3 separate regions of the Homo sapiens genome follow, and all the other regions are linked to region 1. Evidence: fine-mapped expression QTL. A gene starts in region 1. Each other region holds a variant in brackets. All regions are shown on one strand. Distances are between the middles of the regions. Region 1 holds the start of GBE1 (1,4-alpha-glucan branching enzyme 1). Region 2 has its middle 43 kb from the start of GBE1. Region 3 has its middle 73 kb from the start of LINC02008.

Region 1 (8,164 bases):
TGTGGGCAGCCTCAGTAGATAGATGGAATCCATGGGATGGATGAGAATGTCTAGGGAGAAAATATACAATAGAAATACATAAATGATCCCAGGGAAGAACCTTGAAAATCTCTTACATTAAATGGTCAAAAAGAGGCTGAGAAAATGAAAGAAAAGCAAGATTATGGCTTCAAAGAGCCAAGAAATAGTCCAACATGTACAATGCTAGAGATAAAGAAAAGAGGGATCCCTAAATTATCATGAAGTTGTCTGTGAACTGGTTGAGAACAGTTTCAGTAAAGAAAGATTAATCACAGTTGCAGCACTTACTTATGCCATATATGCTCAAGCCCATCACTTAGTTTCTTCATCTGCAAAACAGGAAAAATGCCCACCGTCTGTCTACCTCATGGTTTTGTTATGAGGATTACATTAAATACCGGATCTGAAAGTACTTTATAAACATTAAACAGAGGGTATAAAGTAGTATTATTAAATTGTGTTGTTTTGACAATGTTCACAAATGCCAATTCTCTGTTTCACCCACATGGCAAGCTGATGGGCACTGGCCAATGTAACGTATCAGCAGAATGGACTCACTGCTAGGCAAAAGCTGTAAGAAATAGTGCATAGTTCAACATGCTTCTCTTTGCACTGTGACCACCTCTACAGAAGCATGTTTCAAAACAAATCCTTCATAAGCCTAGATTTTTGAGTGACTGCCATGAGGAGGGCCCTCTGGCTGACTCATGCTGACATGTAATATGGGAACAATTAAATGTTGTTTTAAAGCACTAAGATTTTGGAATTATAACAACTAATTGTAGTGTAACAACAAGTAAATAACTAAATAAAAGGTAGAAAAATCAAGTGGAAAATGCTATTTTGGGAGGTCATCAATGAGACAACATGGAGGTGGTCAGTCATGCTAATAATGTACTAATTTTTATTTTATAGCAGAGTAACTCATTAATCCTCTACACTTGATTCAAAATTCTCACAGGTACAGAAGGTGAAAAGAACAACTAATGAAGGTGATATGGTTTGGTTGTGTCCCCACTCAGATCTCATCTTGAATTCCCACGTGTTGTGGGAGGGACCTGATGGGAGGTAACTGAATCATGGGGGCAGGTCTTTCCCACGCTGTTCTCCTGATAGTAAGTAAGTCTCACGAGACCTGATGGTTTTAAAAAGGGGAGTTTCCCTGCACAAGCTCTCTTCTCTTGTCTGCCACCATGTGAGACATGACTTTCACCTTCTGCCATGATTGCGAGGCATCCTCAGCCACTTGGAACTGTAAGTCCAATAAACCTCTTCCTTTTGTAAATTGCCCAGTCTCAGGTATGTCTTTATCAGCAGCATGAAAACGGACTAATACAGAAGGGGAAAAGGCCAAGGTAAAGAAGGGAAGGAACATCCAAAACATCCTAAGGGAACATCCAAAAAATTTCAAATCAAAAGATATCTGTTGGGGAAGGATGAGACAGTCCATCAAAGAGAAATTTCCTTCTTCATCACCTTAATTATATACTGTTGTTTGTACCTCAAATTTTCTTCACTCCTTAGTAAGCATACTTTGCACCTAAGTGTTTGACTGGTTATGTATTTGTGTTAGGCCAAAGACACACAGTCCAAATGGATTATCAGAAATAAATGGAAAATTGGACAAGGAACTAAGACCAGATTGTATGAAGGAAAAATGTTTTATTCTTCAAGTGTTAACAATAGAAGTTACCACTAACAAATGCCAAATTACTATTTGATATGCCTAAATGGAACATGTATGCTAGCAAATGGCCATTACTCAGAACCAAGGACAAAAGTAAAATCCGGGTCAGAGTGAGGCATGAGGGCCCACTGGACGAGACTTTTCACCAAGCACACTGGATTCTCTTCCCTTCTTTATCTTGGCCTTTGTTCCCTTCATTAGTTTTGGCAAACCATGAAAGAAGATTATAAATGCTTCAATCCCAGTGGAGTTGGAAATAAAGTACATGAAAGAAACACTTAATAAAGAATGTTAATCTGTTTGTGTCATTTAAAAAAAAAAGGAAGGGGGTGTAGATAAAACATTTCCACAACTCTTCTTTAATAAATATCTTAAGTGTCCTTTTACAAAGCACACAGGTAAATTAATGTCATGGTTACAAGGACATCAAAAAAAAAATCTAACCACTACCTTTAATCACTATCTTTTGTTCTAAATTTTTTCTGACTATTTCTAAATCAAATCCAACCTTAAACCTATGACGATTATGCACTAAGTTTCTCTGAAAGCATATACTGTAAATTCTGAAAACAATTTCACAAGGCTGCTCCTCATATGGTTTATATAAGAGCATAATCATCTGATTAAGTGAGGGACAGCTCAAGGTGATTATTTTACAGAGGCCTCATTCACTACTATATACAAGCTCAAGAATGAAACTTCACATCCCTTACAATCCCTAGAGCAGTGTTTTATTTATAGGAGTTCCTCAATAAACACTTGCTGATTTGAATGCATTTAATACCTGAAAATGCTAGGACACAAACAATTTGCTGGGCTTTTTTCAAACTCCAAATCAACCCATTTTCATTACTCTCAACGCTCCTTCATGCCAGTTAACTAGTTGGATGTTTTCCATCACTCGAAAAATTGGCCATGTATATTCTGTTGCCAGGATAGTTTCCATTCTGCAGTGTCTCTCCTAAAAGGGGAGAAACTATTAAATCAAAATGGGGTAACCTCACAAGTATAACTATTACAACTTGTATAATAGCTCTTTTACTTCAAACAACAACGACAACAGAAAAAGACCTGTACCTTTTTAGTGGAACTTATGAATAGAATTATTAGCCCAGTAACTAAAGTTGTATGGTACACAATGGTAGAAGACAAGCTAAAACGACATTGGCCTGTAAAAGTTGCTTTCCTGACCTTTCTCCCTCTTCAAGATGGTTAAAGTCACACACGGACAAATGTTGATGTACATTTAACTTCTCAATGTTGATCCAAGGGGAGAAAAAATTGATCAATGTAGGTGTAATCTTCCCCTAAATGAGGAATATTAGCAAGGAAAAAACAAAAGGATATAGTGTCTGCCTGAAGGAATCCTCTTAGATATAAAATCACAACATTTGCTATGAAATAAACTAGAAAGTTTTAAATGCGTAATTACACGTGCCAGGAGTTATGCCCACGTTACTCCACAGGCCCACGCTAGTGGGTGCCAAAGTCAGAAAACCTGCAGCGGCGGTGAGTCACTCCCCAGCAGCACTCTGGGGAATAAGTGTTGGAGCCACAGCACGTACCCTATGGCGCAAGACCGCTGATTAGAACAGAGGGGAAAGGGGATGAGGAAAGAAGTTTCTTCAGCGCCCGCTCCGGGCACCAGCGCTGTCAAACCTGCCACTACGGAAGCCACAGAACCCGGTTACCCGAGTCACCCCGAGCCCCGCCCACTCAGGTTCCTCCCCGCCTGGGGCGGGGTTGGCGCGCGAGGGCCGAGGGGCGGCCCGTGTCCCGAGACGGCTCCTGGGAGGCGGGCTGCCTGTCTAAGTGGGGGTGGTGGGATTCCGGCGGTACCTGCGCTGGAAGTCCACGGCGTAGGGCTTCAAGTACGGGTCGATCTCCAGGAGTCTGGCCAGTTCGGGCACGTCAGCCAGGGCGGCATTGAGCGCCGCCTCGTAGTCCTCGGGCCGAGCCGCGGGAGTCATCGGAGCCGCCATATTCCGCCGCAGTCCAAGTAGCCGAGGCCCGAGAGGTCGAGTGGGGCCTGAGCGGGCGCTGGAGCTCTAGCTGGGACGCGGCGGCTAGGGCGGAGCCGGAGGGCGCCTAGGCGTGTCGAGGCAAGCCGAGGCGAGCCGCGGCGGTCCGGGGCCCTTTATAGCCGGGACGGAAGGCCTCCTGCCCTTTCTCCCCCCGCCAGCGGGGAGGAGCGGATCCCGGGGTGATGCCGGGACGCACGTCCGGAGCGGGTAGGAGGCACCGAGGCCTCTCCGCCCACTCACGCGGCTGGCACCTGGAGGCCGCAGGGACCTGCCCTTTCCTCCCCTTAACGGTTTTTTCCTGCTGGCGGAGGTCATTCTAGGAGGTGGGTCCCAAGCTGACCTCGCTCAGCCTTGGCCTTCCTCACCCTGACATATTCTTGGCTTTTCTTTACCCACTTAAGCACCCACTGACAGCGACCCCTTCAAATTGGACATAAGGGGTTTTTTTGGAAAGGACCGTATTTCTCAAAGTTCTGAGACTTTTGAGGGGCAGTATTTCAAACATATCATGTAAATTCACAGAGAGGGGAACAGTCAAGTGTAGCTAGAGTACTACTGCTGAAAATGTTAATACCTCTTACAACCAGGACTCTCCTAAGTTTGCCAGGTCACGTGAATTTAAAATTAACCAAGACACAGAATCCTGGAATACCGTTGGAATTCTGCTGTTCTGGTACTCTTTTCTGCATTACCAACAGCTAAGAATTTTAGCCATGGGAAGAACTTTTCTCATTCTCCGTAAGGCCAAAAAGGAAAAGGCATTTGCCTGTGTTTATAATTGTTAACAAGCTTTTCAACGATTAAACTACCTTTGATAACACAAATGATATCATTGAATTGGAACTCCACTCTGCCACTTACAGTGATAAGGCAAGAAACCTCTCTTCCTCTTGGCTTGGGAAGCTCCCACTTGGAATTCCCTTCTTTTATTGCCATTAACTGACTAGCTTCTATTTCAATAATTGCTTTTTAGGAATACAGAGTTGGACTCCAAGAGAGATGGACCCACCAAACCCAGGAGGGTCCAAGCTGCTTTACACCTAGAAACTAGAGAGGATTGAGGATATTTTTCTTGTTAAAACCCAGAACTGGAGGATCCTAGGGGTTATGGAGGAGAAACAGTATTAATCAGCCGTGGGCCTTGAATTTTAAAATATTTCAAAGGAAAGTTTTTATAAGGGGTTTCATAGACTTGAAAGATAAGTGGATATGAAGACAGACCTCAGTGTGAAAAAGTGAAGGACTTGAACGACTTTAAGACGTGCCTTGTTTTCCATAAAGATGACAAAAAACTGCTGCAGACATTTGTAAAATATAAAGCACTAAAAAAGGAAGAAAATTAAAAAAAAATAAAAACCCGAAGCAGGACAACTATTAATAACAGACCCACAGATCTACATCTCCAAGCCTAAACTTTTTTCAGAAACCCAGGCTTGTATCACTGCCTGTCTACTGAGATTTCCATTTAGCTGGCTAGGAGACCTAAACAAACTGTCTGCAAAACGTGACCTAGAATCCGTCTTCTCATCCTTCCTGCTGTCACTCTTATGCAGGCCACTGTTTTCCTTCACTTGGACCAGAATGTAGCTCTCTAACTGACTTCCCCTCTTCTACTCTTTCTCACCTCTACTCCATTCTCTGTACCAGTGTTTCTCACACTTTAATGTGCATATGAATCACCTAGGGATCTTAATTGAGTTCCGATGTGGTGCTTCAGATTGCATTTTTAACAAGCTCAGAAGTGATTCTGATGCTGGTGGTTGGGGACACAGTTTGGTGAGACTCTACACTGAGTAAATCAGACGATGTCATTTAGCAACTTAAATAGCATAGTATTTCACTTAGGGTAAAATAGAAACAGCTTATCATTCTCTAACAAGGCTTGTATAATCTGGACCCTGACTACCTTTCCAGCCACTTTTCTCATCATTTTCCAGTTTTACTATGCTCTAGTCACACTGACTTTCCTGGAACTCAGTGAATTTGTTGTATAATAGCCTCTAAGATTATTTGCTTGCTGTTCTCTCTGTTGGAAATTTTCAGGGAGCTGAGCTCTACTTGCTTAATTTTTTCCAAGCCTTCATTCCAGCCTCAGCAAAAATGTCACCTCATACCTGAGAAACTTCTGATTATAGACTCCTCAGTGTCTTCTGTATAACTTCAATCTCTTCTATGCAACAGTTAACAGAATCTAGGTGTTTGTTTTTCTCCTATTTATTGACCTTTCCCTTTAGAACCTAAGCTCCCCACGAGCACGATCCTAGCGTACATATCTGCCTACCTAGGTGGTTCACCATTGAGCACATATTTATTGAAGTCCCATGTGCCGGCCATTTTCCCACGTACTGTGGATAAATGATAAGACAAGTCCCAGTTGTCATACTCTATTGGGGGTAGGAGGGAGAGGAGACACAATTACCAGTGAAATACATAAAATAATACAAAACAATGTCAGATAGTGGTAAGTGCATTGTCGAGAATTAAAACTGAGCAAATATCTGTGTTAGTTCCGGTCGTCAAGAAAGGCCGTTCAGAACTGACATTTAAGCTGAAGTGTGATGACAAGAAGAAATGAGCCATGAGAGGAAGAGCATTCCAGAATGGCAGAGTTCGTGCAATGGAGGAATTGAATTGGTCTTTTAAAAAAAAAAAAAAATCTAGCATACCCGGTGTGTAATGAGGAGTGGCAGGAATTGTGGTGCAAGAGCTAGGCAGCTGTTCGTTCATATAGGCCCTTTAATGTCCATTTAAGGGATGCTATTGGAGAGTTTTCAGCAGAACACTGATATGATATGGTTTAATTATTAAAATATTCTATGTGGCAAATGAATTATAAGGATACAAGAATGGCAATAGGGGTGCCATTCTTGTGGGAGACAAGGGAGACAATTAGGAGGTGATTAACATTGCCTAGGCATGAAATGATGATGGCTTGGTCTGGGGTAGCAGATAAAATGATGAAATAAAGATTTGGGATGCATGATATAATGAATGCCTAAACTATTATGAAGTCATTTAGTGTCTGTATTAGTTACCTAGGGCTGTAGTGATTAAGTACCACACACTAGGTAATTTAAGCAACAAAAATTTGTCACCTTACCCTAGTTCTAGGGGCTAAAAATCAAGGTGTCCACAGGTTTGGTTCTTTCTGGGGGCTCTGAAGGAGAATTATTCCATGCCTCTCTCCTAGCTTCTGGTGATGGCCAGCAATCTTTGGCATTTCTTGGCTTATAGTTGCATCATTTGGATCTCTGCCTCCATTGTGACATGGCATTTTCCTGTGTCTCTGTCTCTTCACATAGTGTTCTTTTTATTAGGTCACCAGCCTTATTGAATGAAGGACACACCCTATTTCAGTATGACCTCATCTTAACTAATTATATCTGCAATTATTATATTTCCAAATAAGGTCATATTCTGAGGTAATGTTAGGTTAAGACTTCAGTGTATCTTTTTGTGGAGAAATACAATTCAACCCATAACATTTTTGACACACCAAAACAGAGAAAATATTTGAGAAATAGAGTTTATAAGATTTGGTGACTGATTGGATATGAAAGTGAAAAGGGAATTAAAGATTGAACTTCTGAGCCTGGGGGAATTCTGTCTAGCAAAAATAAAGAAGGCCTTGAAAGAGGGAGAACTAAGTTCAAGGTGTCAGCTCCTGGATACCCAAGTCAATATGGCAGCTGGAAATGTAATTCTGGTGCCTAATAGATCATGTAGGAATGAAGATAACAATTAGAGAATGATCCATATGCGTTTACTAGCTAACGGTGGCAAATAGGAGATCCTCAATAAATATTTTGAAACCTTTCTTTCTTGGTATTTGAGTCTCATGTCACATGTTTGCTTTTCAATAGTTTGCATTACAAAGCCAAAGAGTTACTGATAATGTGCTACATCACAGTTGAACCTTAAAAACATAGCAAGTGAAAGAAACCACTCACAAAAGACCACATATTATATGATTCCATGTATATGGAATGTTCAGAATATGCAAATCTACAGAGAAAGAAAGCAGATTTTTAGCTTCCTAGGGCTGGAGGGCAGGGGAAACGAAGAGTGAGTGCAAGTGGATATGCGATTTCTTCTTGGTACACATTTTCTAAAATTAGTTGTGGTTATGGTTTCATGGCTCTGTGGATATACTAAAAACTAATTGTACACTTTAAATGGATGAATTGTATGGTATGTGAATTATGTCTCAAAGCTATTTTTAAAAAGATTCTGAAGGATAAAATAATACTAAATATGCTTTTTAAAAGGCAAATGATTTATACCAACTAAAGATAAACTAGACTATATAAATATACCTTTTAAAATTACATATCCCCCTCGTTGAAAATCATTAGCAATGAAAAAGAAAATCAGAGAGCAGAAAGAAAAAAGAAGTAACTTTTTTTTTTTTTGAGACAGGGTCTAGCACTGT
Region 2 (8,189 bases), 43 kb after region 1:
ACGCAAGATTGCATTGGGAAGATTTCTTAGACTCTGTCAGCCTCAGTTTCTCCCATTCAAAAATAGGGATATTCTGTTGGACAGCATTTATCTCACATGTAGACATATCAGTCTTTCCTGATGCAGACCATGACACTTACTGAAAATGGTAAGTTTCTGTCCTGCCCTCTATATGTCCTCCCAGAGCCAGCTGGCAACATTAGATCCAGTCCTTCAAGGTCTTTGGCCTTGATCCTATGTACTATGAACTCTGGTGCAAGGTAAGAGAGATCTATGAAGATGTAAGATCCAGAATTCCCAATCACCCATCTGCCCAGCCTGAGCTGTTGTGGTGATAAACTTCAGGAGCCAGGTGAATAAGTCTTACTTTAGACATAGGTTTCCTCAGAAAACAATCTGGTGAACTCTTAGGGAGTTTAAGATCTATTCTTGGACCGAATGTTGGCCAAAGGTTTCTACCTGTTTCTCCATGAATCTCTAATTTCTTTTCTTTTCTTTTTCTTTTTTTTTCTTTTTTTTTTTTTTTTTTTTGAGACAGAGTCTCACTCTGTTGCCCAGGCTGGAGTGCAGTGGTGGTCTCGGCTCACTGCAATCTCCCCCTCCCACGTTAAAGTGATTCTCGTAGCTCAGCCTCCTGAGTAGCTGGGACTACAGGTGTCCACCATCATGCCCGCTTAATTTTTGTATGTTTTTAGTAGAGATGGGGTTTCACCATGTTGGCCAGGCTGGTCTTGAACTCCTGATCTCAGGTGATCCACCTGCCTCGGCCTCCCAAAGTGCTGGGATTTAGAGTGTGAGCCACTGTGCCCAACCCTCTAATTTATTTCTTAATCCTTCAAATCTTGCTACTTCCTCCCATCTTGTTGTGGATTTTTGCAAGGGCGCTAGCTATTGAAAAGCACTTGGTTATTGACCAAAATACTTTCTTTCATTTTGCACTGGATACCCTTTGTATATTGTACTAAGTTGTTTCTATATTTCAAGCTATCACAATTTGGACCTGATCTACATACAGTTAATGAACACCATGTGGAAATCATACCCACTTTGCATAATATTTTTCCATACATAATAATAAAATTAAATGAACATTAATTCTTTTATAAAACCCCACCCACCCTTTCACTGATGAAAGGAAAATCAAGTAAACAACTTTAACGAGAAGGCAATAGTAGAATTTCTTTGTGGATTTTGTTATTTTCCTTTTTTTGTTTTGTCCAGATTTTAGCAGGACCATTGGATCGTTTGTACTCAGGTTAGTCTGCCTATTTGTGAGAGAGTATTCTTCACAAATGGGATGTAGTTATGCAAAAAGATGAGACCTGAATTTATACTTTGGCTTTAAAGTTGAAATGTTAGTTTACATTATATTTCGTAACTAGCTCAGAGAGAATTGGTGCATGCAAGTACAATGGAGCTTGGTTTCCTAATGTCAAAAAAACCTTCACTTTTCACATTCTTGTTCTTGACAGAACATATTTTCGTTTATTCATTCCACTAATAATCTATGAAATTAAGATATCTCCATCTCAAAAAAAAGAAAGAAATTAGAGATTCATGGAGAAACAGGTAGAAATCTTTGACAAAGAAATTATTTTCTGAAATCTTCATTAGAAGTTAATTCCTGAATTGATAATTGCTTTTGCATTTAAGAAAAACATAGTTTTAACTACAACAGATGCTCCCACATATATACATGAAATTCAAACAAAATTGTGAAAAAAAAATCTAGTTGAGTCTGAAAAAAAGCAAAAAGCAGCTGTTTAAAAACTGTACACCAGCACGAAGAAGAAGAAAAAGCTGTAGTATTTACGTTTGCTTCTACATATCATTGTCACCTATCAGTTGTTATCTTGAGATAATTCAGGATGAAAACTTTTGTGATTTTCTTTGCTTACAGATTGCATACCTTCTTAAGCACATTAAAGCTTCCCTGTCTCAGTTCTTTTCCTGAATTTCACAGCTGAAATTGTTAAAAGTTATTTTTTCCCTTCTACTTAGCTAAAATCTGCTTCTCCGAGCCTCTACCAATTGATGGAAGGTTAAAAAAAAAAAAAAGCCTCTACTCATTGATAGAAGGTAAAAAAAAAAAAAAAAAGTCTCTACCCATTGATAGAAGGTAAAAAAAAAAGTTCATAAATTCAGAAGTCAGTAAGACTGGGGACACAATGTTATTATCTCCAGTAATGTGATATTTTTAAGTTTTAGCTTCCTTATCTGTAAAACGGAAATAGTAGCAATTGTACTGTGCCTGAATGTGGAATGTAATAGGAGTTTTCTACATCCCAACTCATTCCCCTACTCCTTTTTTTTCCCTCCCTCCAGAAGTATCTGGTATCATTGAGGCGTCAAGATGGAAATAGTTGAATTAATGTATGTCAGCGTGTAAGTAAGCATTAAATTGCTACTATATCTAAATATACATGTTGAGGCCAGGCCCAGTGGCTCATGCCTGTGATTCCAGCAGTTTGGGAGGCTGAGGCAGGGGAATTGCTTGAGGCCAGGAGTTTGAGTCCAGCTTGGGCAACATAGCAAGACCCTGTCTCTACAAAAAAATTAAAAATGGCCAGGTGTGGTCCTTCACGCCTGTAATCCCACCACTTTTGGAGAATGAGGTAGGTGGATCACTTGAGGTCAGCAGTTCGACACCAGCCTGGCCAACATGGTGAAACCCTGTCTCCTAAAAATACAAAAATTAGCCAGGCATGGTGGCACATGCCTGTAATCCCAGCTACTCGGGAGGCTGACGCATGAGAATCGCTTGAACCTGGGAGGTGGAGGTTGCAGTGAGCCAAGATCTTAACTCTGTACTCCAGCCTGGGCAGCAGAGTGAGACTCTGTCTCAAAAATTAAAAATTAAAAAAATTTAAAAATAGCCATGCATGGTGGCATGTGCCTGTAGTTCCAGCTACTCAGGAGGCTGAGGCTGGAGGATCACTTGAGCCCAGGAAGTCAAGGCTGCAGTGAGCCATGATCATGCCACTGGACTCCAGCATAGGTGACAGAGTGAAACCTTATCTCAAAAATAAATAAATAAATAAATATGCATGTTGATTTGTGGTACATATTATAGTACATATGTTGTGAATTTAATTTAGAACTCAGTATGCTTCAAAAAGATCGTAAGAATTTTCCCTTAAATACTTCCTTGTCCTTCTGTTTCTTCTTTCTTTTTTTATAGCTACCCCTCTTAACTGTTTCTCCACTCTCTGTTCCCCATATCCAATCAGGTATCAATTCCTACTGACTCTATTCTAGTTTTGGTGCACATTTGAACCCATATTTTATTTTCCACTTCCAACTCTACCCCAGGCCCGCATTAACTCTTCCTTCCACTATAGCATTCCTTTCCCAACTAGTCTATTTGGCATGAGCTATGTCCTTTTTCATTCATTCTATAGACTCCATCTGGCTTATTCTTCCAAAGCGGAACTCTGATCAGAAAATTGCCTTGCTCAAATACTCTCAACAAGTTCACATTTCTTAGAAAATGAAGCCCAAACATCTTCTCTTGGAAATTAATACTTTTTATGACAAAGTCTACCACACTGCTTAACAAACTCTAATGCGCTGCCAATTTTGATACTTGCTGCTTTCCATCTGCACTTTCCCACTCTTGCCTCTGTGCAATGTTTTTGTCTTCGATTGTCTTTCCTTCTTTCTAGAATTTTTACCATCTTTAAATACAGATACCACCTACATATTAAGCCTCACTTGATGTCCTTAACTAAAATTGATCTTTCTCTTCTTTGTGATTCTACTGTCCATTGTGTCCATCTTGCAACATTCGTAATCTTTTGCCTAATTTATGTGAACATGTTTAATCTCCCCAACTCTATTTTAAACTTCTTGAGAACAGTCTTTCCATCTAGCACCTTAGCTATCAGAGTTTTGTACATGTAATACAGAATACTTTTTTAAAAAACTGGAAATACCATTGTGAGTTGGCAAAACAGAGTCTATTTCACAAAGGAGGACAGTCTTTGAGTTTGGGTGGAAGGAATTTAAGGAAATAATTTTCATGACAAGAGTAGGTATGATAGAAGGTAGTCATCCTGAGTGAAGATTTGTTTTGGGAGGAGAGTTAGGAAGTAAGTTTAAGTAACTTTAATAATGAAGTGTCATCGTAGAGATCTTGAAAAACAAAGAGTTTAAAAATGTATAAGATGGTGAAGCAGGAAGAACATTATGTCAGGAGACCTGGATTCCAGTCACAGTTTAATTTCTGATAGGTTATGAGACTTCAGTAATGACTTCTATGGGCCTCAGTTGATTCTGAGTAAAATTAGCAGATAAAACTCAATGATTTCCAGTCTATTCTAGCTTTAGACTCTCATGCCTATAAAGAAATAATGGGCTACTTTATGTTTTTGAGCAATTAATGGCATATAAAAGTTGTACTTAAGGAAGATAGAAAAAGATCAAAGAGGATAAAAACATTAAAAATACAAAATTTTAGCAGCTTTATTATTTTATGCAACTAAAATTAGTTGATTAATTTGGAGATGTCTAATTATATAAATAAAGTGTTACAGGTTAGAGTATCTATATCTTTTTTTCAGTTTATTGTTTACTGTTTGAATATTGAAAATTCTTACTATAGAACT[G/A]TAATAGTCTTGAGAAGTTGCAGCTGTTATGCATACCCACACTCAAGCTATTTCATACAAATAAGGTTCTAGCTTTAATTTTAAATGCCTCGAGGCAAACAGCACAGTCTTTTTCTGGCTCAAATAGATCCAATTACCTCTAATGACCCTGCTACAGTTTATTGAGTGTCTATGATCCAGGTGCTTTTGCTGAAGTCTAAAGTCATATTTTATATCATTTTGTGAGAAGTCATCGACCAAATGAATAAAAATTACTGAGACTTTCCTCCACATTACTATTTCTTCATGTAAATATTTATTGAGCTCCTACTGTGTGTAAGTGAATATGCTAGCCCCTCACAGAGAAGAGAAAAATGAACAAGACAGTCTGATCTCAGGGAGCTTATGCTTTGTTACAATAGAGCAAACATGCAAAATAGACTGAGCTTATAAAGAGCAAGAACAATCTCCTGACACACAGCAGGTACTTAATAAATGACTATTGACAAATTACACAAAAGGTAGACTATTTTAAGTACCACCAGAAGTAGGGATGGGGTGAGACAATGGGAACTCATAGTCTTGGGGTTATGAGAAAAAGTTTGTGAGGAAAGTTCTGAGTTCTTAATAGAAGTAAATGTTTGGAGGTCAGCAGGGCTGTGGATAATTGGGAAGGAAGTGTCTTATAGAGGAAACAGCCAGAAAAAAATTAAAAAGGTGGGCTAGCCTTGGACAAGTTTTAGAAACAGGGAATGGCTTAATTTGGCTGGAGGATAAGAGAATAGGGTTGATAAAGTTAGAAAGCTAAATGGCTGAAAACTACTTTCTGTAGGTAACTTGGGAGTCATTGAAGATTTTTAAGTAGAGAAGTACTAAAAAAGATCTTTGGTTTTTCTTTTAGCCATTATACTTTAATATGACTTAGGGTGATTCTTAAATAACACATTTCAACATTTAAAAATTCATGCAATAAAAACAGGCACCAAAAACAAAGACAAAATCAGAATAAAAAAACATGTCACAGCCTTTTCATTTCTCACCACTCTGGGCAGTAATGTCAAGAATCAAATGGATTATTTATAGTTCTCAGTTAGCCCTGGAGGTGGGTGCTCAGAGAAGTAGCCACACTTGGTGAGGGTGCTGAAATAGTTATAGACTTTACATTCCAGCGTATTTGAGTTTCTATTGACATTAGATCTACTATGTAACACAATTTTCTGGTAGAACATCATATAATCATGTTAGAAAATATTTTTTGTTAACATGTAAGAAAAATGTTAGATTTCTATTACTGTCTGCTCTTTGCCCTAAAGTTATGCTAGGAAAAATGTTATTTCCAATCATCAAGAGGAAAAGGTACACTATTCAAACAGTGCCGTCATTAAATAATTTTTCAAATGATGTTATCATATTCATTTGGTTTGTTCTGGGAGATATAATTTAAATGCACTCATATGTTAAGAATCCAATTAATTTTTAAATGTATGTTTAACCTAAACTGGCATAATATAAACTGGCATAAATTCTGGCTAAATTTTCAACTTTAAATTATTATTACAAGTAGATTATTTTACCTTAATTATCATGAGCTTATTCCTCAAAGTGTGCAAGTATATTTATGAAATTAAAAGTAATAAATGTCTACTATGATGTATTGCAAAAAATATTGTAGAATATTATTGTCCCCAATTCTTCATTCTTTTCTTGTTCTAGAATTGCACACCCTTTTGCAAAGTGATTTGGTATTATCTCCTTCTTACTAGGGTAGATGAAATATATTTCCGCACTTTATTGATGTTGGGCTTGGCCATGTGACCAATGTGAATGGCCAGAGAATGAGCAGGAGTTTCAATGTGCCAATGTGGTTAGGCTTGAGTTCTTGTGTTTCTGCTCCGTGAGAAAAATATGCTTGAGTAGCCTCTAGTCCCAGAGTGATGAAGACAGGTGGAACAGGTTTGAACCCAGTCCCAGGCCTGGAGTTTAGTCGAGCCTAGCCGAGTCCTGCCTGGTAAGCCCAGCTGAAATTAGAGGATCTGCAGCCACCCTACATATTTATAAATGGAAAAACAATAATGTTTGTTTTTGTAAGCCATTGATATGTTAGTGGTTGCTTATTATCCGTCATAATTGTAGCTAGAATTTATTATTACATATATTATTTTATAATATTTTGATAGCTATAGTTACCCAAATAATGGTAAGAAATAAATGAATAAAGCATTAAGACTATGGGATTTGTTATACTACATTGAATGTTAATTACATGTCCCAATATAAATGTCTCAGTAATGATGATAACATTTTGATGACTAAAAATATAGTCCTCTTGGGAAACCATTTTTTGTCTTTTGAGGCCTACAGGAAAGTTCAAAATGAAAAGATTGGGCTACATAGTTTTTATATAGAAAAACTTCAATTCATCTGAAAATTCCTACTTCTCAAACTAACATTTTTATAAATTTTCCTTTGTTATCTTAAAGCATAGCATTAAAAATTGCTTATCAAATTACATCATTTATCAGCCGTACATTGTAATCTCTTTATAATTGAGTTTTTAGTGAACATGATGCAGAGTATAAGTTACCTTTGTTCTACTGGAGACTTGTTTAAATTAGTGGCCAGAAGAAAAAATTTTGTAACTTTAAAACTATATGCCAATACGTGGCAGGAAACAGTTCCAATGTCATATGAGGATATGTTTAGGAATAACAAATCCAACTGAATAAGTTTCTCAATTTTAATGGATGGCCTACACTATTCAAATAAGCTCATCTAAAATTTTTAGCATGAATATATATATATATACATGTTAAAGTTGTGTAATTATACAGTGAATATTTCCATTTCAGATGTCAGAGACTTCTTGTCAAAAGCCAAGAACTATGAGTGAGTGGATTAAAATACTTTGTTCATAAACAAGTTGGCCTATTTTATTTGGCCTACTTTTTTAAAAAAGCAATTTCCTTTCACAGATAAGATAGCAGTTGTTGAACAATTAGCCTCATAAAATATTATTTCACAATAAGATGGGAAGAAATAAGGGATACCAAGACCATTTTCTTTCTATGAGATTAAAAACATTTTCTACATATTTGTCTATCGATGGCATAATAGACTCATTAAGTTAACGTTTCATTGTTACATAGCATCTCTAATTCAAATTTCTCAGTTTCAGAAAGAAAATCTTTTGTCAATATTTTGAATAGGTTCTAAGTGGAAGATTTTTGTTTGGTAAGATTTTCACATTAAAGTTTATGTATGATGTAGAATTGATTTAGTAAAAGCTATATTTAGTTAGCTGGTTAATTCTTGGATGGAAAAGAAAATAATTATAGCTAGATACTTCGCTTTTTAAGCATGTATTATTTTCTTGGATATTTGAACATCATAGTTACTTTGGTTTTTCTTTTTACAGGATCATAATAAGCCACTTCTCTCCATCCTCCAGTTAAGCACAAATATTTAATTTTGTAATTAATTATATATGTTTTTAAAATATAAAGCTTGCAGCACATAAGACAACATAATTAAGGACAAAGAAGACAAACTCAACTAATGAACACAGAGTTGAAAAATAGAATTCTGAAAAATTAAATGAACTCT
Region 3 (8,189 bases), 150 kb after region 1:
AAACTGCAAGTATGTACGGTGGGAGAAGTTGCATGAGGATATTACAACATAGAAGGGAAAGAAAGCTCCAGACAGTTTGAACTCTCTTTTGAACTGGCTCTCCGAGGTCTTTACAGATGCGTCTTGATAAGAGGGGCACTCCCATGGTTACTTCCTCCTTTCCCGACCTGTTTTGTTGTTTATATACTTCATCCACCCCTTCAAGTTTCCCTGTCTGAAATTGGCCCCATCTGCCTCTTGAAAGATGCTGACCTTCCTGACAGGTGGAGCTATTAAATGTGTCTGGCTGGGCACAGTGGCTCACGCCTGTAATCCCAGCATTTTGGGAGGCCAAGGCAGGCAGATCACCTGAGGTCAGGAGTTCGAGACCAACCTGGCCAATATGGTGAAACCCCATCTCTACTAAAATACAAAAAATTAGCCAGGCATGGTGGCGTGTGCCTGTAGTCCCAGCTAGTCGGCTGAGGCATGAGTATCACTTGAAGCCAGGAGGCAGAGGTTGCAGTGAGCCAAGATCGTGCCACTGCACTCCAGCCTGAGCAACAGAGTGAGACTCCGTCTCAAAAAAACAAAACAAAACAAAACAAAAAAAGCAAAGCAAAACAAAACAAAAAGTCTGTATCTTTCCTGAGTCCCACAGTCTCAATGGTGCTCCCAGCATTGGGTAAGTCATCCTATATGTTTGCAAATTTGCAGTCTCCAGGCTCCAGTTCCCTGAAGGAAAGTTAAAGTGAATCCTTCAATTTTATGATCCTTCCCCCACCCCCCACCTCCCACTGGTGTTTTCACTGTTACACAAACTCCTAAGAAAGCTCATCTTAGAAATACAAACATTTTAAAATAATAAATGTAATTGTGTATATTTAAGGTATACAATATGATGTTATGGAATACATATACCATAGATAGTAAAATGGCTGCTATAGTGACTCAATTTAACATGTCCATTTTCTCATATAGTTACCTAATTTTTTTTGTTTTTGTGTCAAGAGCAGCTAAAATCTATTCATTTAGCAAGAATACCAAATACAGTATAATGTTATTAACAATAGCCCTCAAGTTGTATATTAGATCTGTAGACTTGTTCATCCTACGTATCTAAACTGTTTTTCCTATTTTACAGGTAGCATCATTTAAATCTAAATTGAGGAAAGAACATTCCTTCTGTTAGTAAAGCTAAGTGCTGCCAGTGAGTCGACAGCATTGTACACTGGAGCCCTTGGGGTCTGGCATCAGCCCAGAGACCTTAGTAGCTTTTAATGGTTGCATTCTCTGTTGAATGGGGAATGGCATGAGTCTTAATTCCTGGGATTCAGATTTTCCTCTGATGCAAAGGAAAGGGGTTGAAATTCCTGTCACCACATCTATATGGGAGTTCCTTTAAAGTCAAGCCAAAAGCTCATTTAATTAAAAAAAATTGCTTTTATTTCAACATAAAAGGTTTTTGACCTTAGGCAATTTATATTACTCCAAACGTAGTTTTGTTATTTAGCAACTGGCAATTATATAAGCTAGTCATTCTCCAAATATTGGGAAGCATTTAATATACAGCATTTTGTTTGTACCTCTAACTTAATCTTCACCTCATTCTACCTTGTGCTGTAATTACATAATTAGTCATGTATTAAGGATCTTTAATGAGACAATTTCTGCTAAGCATGGTGAGGGAAATATGTGATCTTCCCACCGTCCGGGAAGCATGTGCATACGGATGTATTTTTCTCTCTTCCACTAGGTGGCGACATCCTTGAAATGGGGGCCTTACTAATTATTGTATCTCCTATAACATGTAGCACAAAACCTTGTTCATCATCAATATCCAAAATAATTCAGAGATTAGCCACAAGAACGGAGGATGAAAAAATCATTTTCACAAAATTTGCAAGCCTATTACTGAAGTACATATCATCATACACTGACCTTTCTCTCAAAATGATCAGAGAATAGTTCAGATCTTTGACTCCTCTAGTCCAATCATAGACCTTGACATTTTAACCAGGAACAAAAATTAGTGTGGCTTTTTTATCATGGCTTGTTGCTTGTAATCAAGTTTCAGTCATTGCTTCTGGTCAATCAGAATTATCACCTCCCAGGACCTATAGGTGAGGGTTATTTTTTTTCAAAAGAAGTTCTCATAATTTCTTCAGTGTGTTTGTCTGCTTTTCTTTGTCTGGTATGATACTTTCCAGGCTGTGGATGCTTAACAAATGTTAAATGATAATTCTTTATTGACCTGACTGGGTTTTGGGAGCTCACAAAATTTTCAGGGAAGTGTTTTAAATGTTTTGTAATCTTTAGGATTTTAAAATAGAATTATGATGACCTTTCCAAAGCAAGAAAGCAGGAAGTTGCTGTAAGCTTAAGGCCAAGCAGTTAAAACTAATATGATTGGTCTCTTTTGGCTCATTAATTGCATCTAAGTGGATACAGAGAGCGGAAGCTTTTGTTAAATAACTGACACAGTTAATTCCAATTCGTAATATGTTCTGGGAATGGTATTATAATAAAACACAAAATGGCCTCCATGGTTTAAAATGGAGTGCAAAGTCAAGCAAATGCTGCATGGAGAGCCAAACTAATAACTCAGATTCTCCCCATATCCTCAGTGTCAGTGTAGATGCCAATTATGACGCTTATAAGCTTACGGTGGCTTCATTACTGCCAAGACCATAGGAAAGGAGATCCTGTCAGTAGCCCTATACCACAGGTATTTTCTATTGCTGCTGTAAAACAAAATGCCAAAAATGTAGTGACTTAAAACAACACAAATTTGTTATCCTACAGTTCTGGAAGTCAGAAGTCCCAAAGGGATCTTACTGGGCTAAAGTCAAAGTGTCAGTAGAGCTGTATTTCTTCTGGAGGCTCTAGGAAAGAATCTGTTTCCTTGCCTTTTCCAGTTTTTAGAGGCTTCTTACACTCTTCGGCTAATGGTATGATTCCTCCATCTCTAAGGTCAGCAGTATAGTATTTTCAAATCTGTCTCCTACTCTGACATCCCTGCCTCCTTCTTGTAGGGACCCTTATGACTGCCTTTGGCCCGACTGGATAATCTTCTGCTCTCAATATTCCTAACTTAAATTACATCTGCAGAGGCAAGGTTTCTTTTGCCATGTAAAGCAACATATTCACAGGTTTCAAGGATTAGAGCTTGGACATCTTTGATGGTGGGTGGGGGAAGAGGTCATTATTTTGCTTGTCATGTATTAAAAATAAAATTTCAAAGTATTTTAAAGAATAATTTTATATTATGATAATTTTCCAAGATGTAAGAGCAGATTATTGTTTCAATATAAAAATGATGAAATTAAAAATTGAGCAAACATGATGATCTGTGTTGTGGAAAAACAGGGTTTCCAATTGTCCTGGATTTTAATCATCTCAGTGCTGTGTATTTACTGTGTATATTTTCTGAGATAATGAGCTATAATGCCTGCCTCATAAGATTCTTTGGAAAGCCTTATGCTGTTTTTTGCATTGACACCTAGCATGGTAATTCTTCATTAACATTAAGGGAGAACTGAAGTTTTAACCATTAATTCTCAGTCAATATATTGTCTGATAAGTACTTGAGTTGGTCAGTAAGTGACATCCATACTAGCATTTGGGATGGCCTTGGTGTGGCCCTGAGAAGTAGGATGCACAAATGTTCTATGCATACTATCTCTTATTTACTAGGATAAGATAGGCCAGTGAAAAAACAATATTCCATTTGACTAACTCCACTACTTGCTGGAAAGCTGTAGTTTCAAAGCCTTGATCAGAAAGAAATGCAAAGCTGAATGTTTAATATCAGAGAGTATCAGGTCTATGATCTCACAGGTTAGTGACTGAACATTAATCATGTTAATATCTTCAATTAAATAGAT[T/C]CTGTTGAAAAAGTAGAATGAATGAGAGCCAATATGGTGTTTTAGTCAGTTAATAAATAGATTGTTGTTATATCCAGGACAAAATGGATGAAAATTGAATTCCACATGATAAAATATTATTAGTTTTAACCTTAAGATAGATTATCAAGTACTTGCTGTCAAAAATTCTTTTACATCTAATTTTTCCTCTCTTGGTTTTGCCTGTATAAATAAATAGATTCCATTTCCTCTGTATTCCATTAGAATTTATCTAAAGTCTGAAGTCCTGATCTAATACTGTAATTTTATCTGTCATTTGATGTCGAGTTATTAAAATTTGTTTGAAAATACAGTATGCACACTTTGGATGGCATCCTTATGTATCCTTTTAATCTAGAAATGTATTTTTTAATATTTTGGTTGGTCATAATTTGTCAAGATAAAATGGGCTATGATTAGAGAAACTATATGTACTACTACATTTCTAATTTTAATAATGCATAAAATCATATGTATTAATGTATTAGGAATTTGATTGAGTGCTTCAGGTAAAGGCTCATCTTATATAATACATTTTGATTTTGTTACTCCATCAGTTATATACAATTATTAATTTTTTACCATTGCATACATTTGTGTAACTGTGCCATCTAATAGCTAATAAGGTAATAAAGAAATCATTAGCCTTTCTTTGGAAAGATATCTAAGCTGGTGAACTATAAAACTCTGAGTTCGTCTAAGTGTCACTTGGAGTTCTGGGGGTTGTCTCTCTTTTGAATTCAGAAATCATAAATTGAATATCTTGATATAGTCGAGTAAGCGGGAAATGAGCACTGCTTTTGCAATTGACTCGTAGATATGATCCTAAGCAGGAGGACAAGGATGAAGAGGGTAAGAACGAATAATAAATGTGTTTGAAAATGAGATTTAACATTTAGAGTACCAAAATTTTTCTAGTACTTTAAAGAATCAGTTTCTTTTTATTTTACCCTGTTTCCTAAAGAATAGACTATATGACTAATAGATTATTTCATTCTAATCAATTATTATTCTATCTTGAAATAAAACATAAAGTCTTTAGAAATATTTCCTGCTGTAATAATATGCCCAAATAGGCTACAGTTTCCACGGATAAACCCATATTTTTCCTCAATACTTTCTTCCAATAATATTTAGTCAATATATTTTTTAAAATATTTTCAAAAATTTACATTGTTATCTTGACATTGGAGCTTAGTGATTTCAATTACAAACAAATGAAAATGGAACCAGAAGTATGTTTTACAGGGTGAAAAATTTCTTTACGACTTCAGCTATTTTTCAGGCTTAAACTTTCCTTTCATTTTTTTTCTTTAAGGATTCTGAAGAATTCCAGCTTCCCTACTGTTGTGTCTTACATAGATTCATGTTGAATATGTATTTCCCAGCATCTAGAGATGCTGATTCAGTGTAGTTGGTGACAGGTGTCTCAATGACAAAGGCAGGAGGCCTTTAAAATCTTCAGTTTGGGAGTGTCAGGATGGGTATGACATAGGCCCATGCTGACAATCTGAAATGAAGGCTCTTGGCATAATTGCTTTTCATTCAAAAGTTAAGAAAATGCAGCTGCGTCCTCTTCACCTCCAATTCCTGCAATCTCTATGCATAGAATGAAGAACTGCCTGCTTCACTGCTGAATTCTCTTCCTTCCTTCTTTAAAGAACTAAAGATCAATGAACTTAGTGCTATTCTGGTCCTTACTAAACTTGGCCTGGCTAAAATAATCAATTTAGCTAAAAAAAATTCTAATATACAGAGAAAGACTTTGTGTTCTTATTTATAAGAGACCAAATATCTCTTTCCTTCCAGTGACAGGGGCACACAGGCACTGCAGCACAACCTCAGGCAAAATAGAAAAAGAAAGGAGAAAGAAAGCACTGCCTTTCTCCAGAAATGACTCATGATATTTATTCAGATGACAGGAAGAATAAATTAGTTGAAGATTTATAGGAGCCTATTAACTCTTGTGCATGAGTTGTAGGTTAATTGAACTATAACAGTATGTTAATTCAAGAATTACTTAGAAATGCATGACCCCCACCCCCCAAAAAAATGTATGGGTAAGCACACATGTTAATCATTAAAAAAAATCCTAATTTAAGAAAAACAATAGTAGTCTGCAAGGGGTTAAAAATCAGGGTATAATCAAAATAGCGCTGTATTTCTTCCCATGGATTAATTACTTACATATTTTCTCTCCGAATTTAACTGTACACATATACAACACTTCATAATTTGGTAAGAAAGCTTTTATCATAATGACTTCCTGCACAGAACTTTGAATTGTTGAATAAAAGCTCTCTATACATGAACATCATTATAACCTTCGGGCTTCTGGATAATTTGAATTGGTTTTACAATCCACAGTTGGGTAGTGTAAAAGGAGCCTCTGACGGCCGTAGGAGCAGCCTTGACAACTGTCAGCCTACCACACACCCAGAGCAATATCTCTGAATTTTATCGCTGTCAAGAACAAATCATAGGTAAATGGATACCAATTCTGATAACGAAGCAGGCTGAAATGGTCCAAGACCTTCTTACTAAATTTAAAGGAAGGCAACATCAGAGCCAAATAACTATTGCCCAACCAACATTTTTCTTTTTGATTACACTGTGGTAAGGCAGACAGACAGGTAGGTTTACAAGTGCATTGAAGTTAGTGGTGAGCTTTCCATACAAATATATAACAAAATAAGTATCCTCATGTGGGCATTTGCAGGGTAAAACATGGGGTAATTTGAGGTATATAACTCTTTAAGTCACTGCTATTATCAACTACCTGTGGTTGGGTTAAATAACTAGCTTCTACTGAAAGAAAAGCTCTTACCTTTTGAGCGGCACATTATGTTTTGTGATACATAAATCAAAAACTCCAGTGTAATCCTTGAATGTTATTTTCAGGTGGTTCATTTCTTTCTCCCTTCTACTCTCTTTTATTTCTATTTGTGGCAAGTGGATATGATAGCTCGAGTATTAAGACCTGTGATTATGAAAAACTTGCAGATGGGACTGTTTATTTAAGTGGCATTTACAGATTTCGACTTAGTAGATCCGGAGAAGTAATATTGCACTGACCTCTGTGATTGTGAACTAAACGGCCTTTGAAAGTCCTTGAAGATTTAGTATCAGCTTTCCACTTGACAAATGTACTGTCCTGTTTATAGATGACCAAACTCTGAGTAGCTTTCATTAAAATATAATAACATCATCCAAAATGAACTAAGCCATAGGTTTAATCAGGGTTTCTGTTATGTAATTTCAGAGGGCAAGTCAACAGCTCTACATTCTCTTCAAAGTGTGGATTCCAATGGACTATGACATTTGAGGAATGCTTTTGTACCCTGTATTTTCTCAGCATACCAGCTGCAGAGTGATTAGTGAATCATTTTAGGATATTACATACTAATTGCTAAAATGATTAAGGCTCTTTCCTCTCCTATACTCAATCCCTTAACCCATCATTTTCCACTTTCACAATTTAAACACAGATTATCCAAATTTTGGTTTACTAACATGCTCATTTAGCTGAAGATCAATTTTGTTTCTGAAAGATTCGTATGGGTTTTCTTGATCTTTTGCAACTAGGATTGCAAACCACCATTCTTGGCTAAATGGATAGAGGGAGAGAGAGAAAGGAGATAGAGAGTGAGAGAGAGAGAGAGAGAGAATAACTTTGCCTTCTTGGGGCTCAGACTTGGAGCTAAACTATCTCATCAAGAACTGCACAGCGAGTGCGGTGGCTCACGCTTGTAATCCCAGCACTTTGGGAGGCCGAGGCAGGCAGATGACCTGAGGTTGGGAGTTCGAGACCAGCCTGACCAACATGGAGAAACCTCATCTCTACTAAAAATACAAAATTAGGCGGGCGTGGTGGCGCATGCTTATAATCCTAGCTACTTGAGAGGCTGAGGCAGGAAAATCCCTTGAACCTAGGAGGCAGAGGTTATGGTGAACTGAGATCATGCCATTGCACTTCTGCCTGGGCAACAAGAGTGAAAGTCCATTTCAAAAACAAAACAAAACAAAACAAAACAAAACAAAAACAGAAAAAACAAAGAAAAGAATGACACTGAAGCCTAAACCTGAAGAGATTACTGGTTTTCTCTTCCAAGGATAAACTTTATAACATCTTTACACTAAGTAACATTCCAGACAGACGGAGAGAGCAAGACAATTACATTTTTTAAAAACTATTTGAGAATCTCTTTTTTTTTTTCAAACAGTGGTTTTTACACAAAACATTCTCAGAATCTGAATATCAGTGTGTTCATACAACCCTGATAATATACTCATCTCCAGAGATAA

The links. PIP is the estimated chance that this variant, and not a neighbour inherited with it, causes the effect.
Region 2: its variant is the best candidate, but not a certain one, in a credible set for the expression of GBE1 in whole blood (TOPMed, PIP 0.73).
Region 3: its variant is the best candidate, but not a certain one, in a credible set for the expression of GBE1 in whole blood (TOPMed, PIP 0.89).

The regions. Positions count from the first base shown.
Region 1 is chr3:81,757,828-81,765,991 of GRCh38, forward strand. GBE1 (1,4-alpha-glucan branching enzyme 1) reads right to left here and starts at 3,818. Exons shown (of 16, transcript NM_000158.4): 1 at 3,548-3,818. The coding sequence starts at 3,690. RefSeq lists silencers at 491-785, 3,367-3,446, 3,947-4,046 and enhancers at 3,097-3,266, 3,607-3,896, 3,683-4,291.
Region 2 is chr3:81,800,667-81,808,855 of GRCh38, forward strand. No RefSeq gene overlaps it. Among named protein-coding and RNA genes, the nearest start is that of GBE1, 43 kb to the left of the region's middle. The variant G/A (reference allele first, on the strand shown) is at 4,608.
Region 3 is chr3:81,908,714-81,916,902 of GRCh38, forward strand. No RefSeq gene overlaps it. Among named protein-coding and RNA genes, the nearest start is that of LINC02008, 73 kb to the right of the region's middle. The variant T/C (reference allele first, on the strand shown) is at 3,867.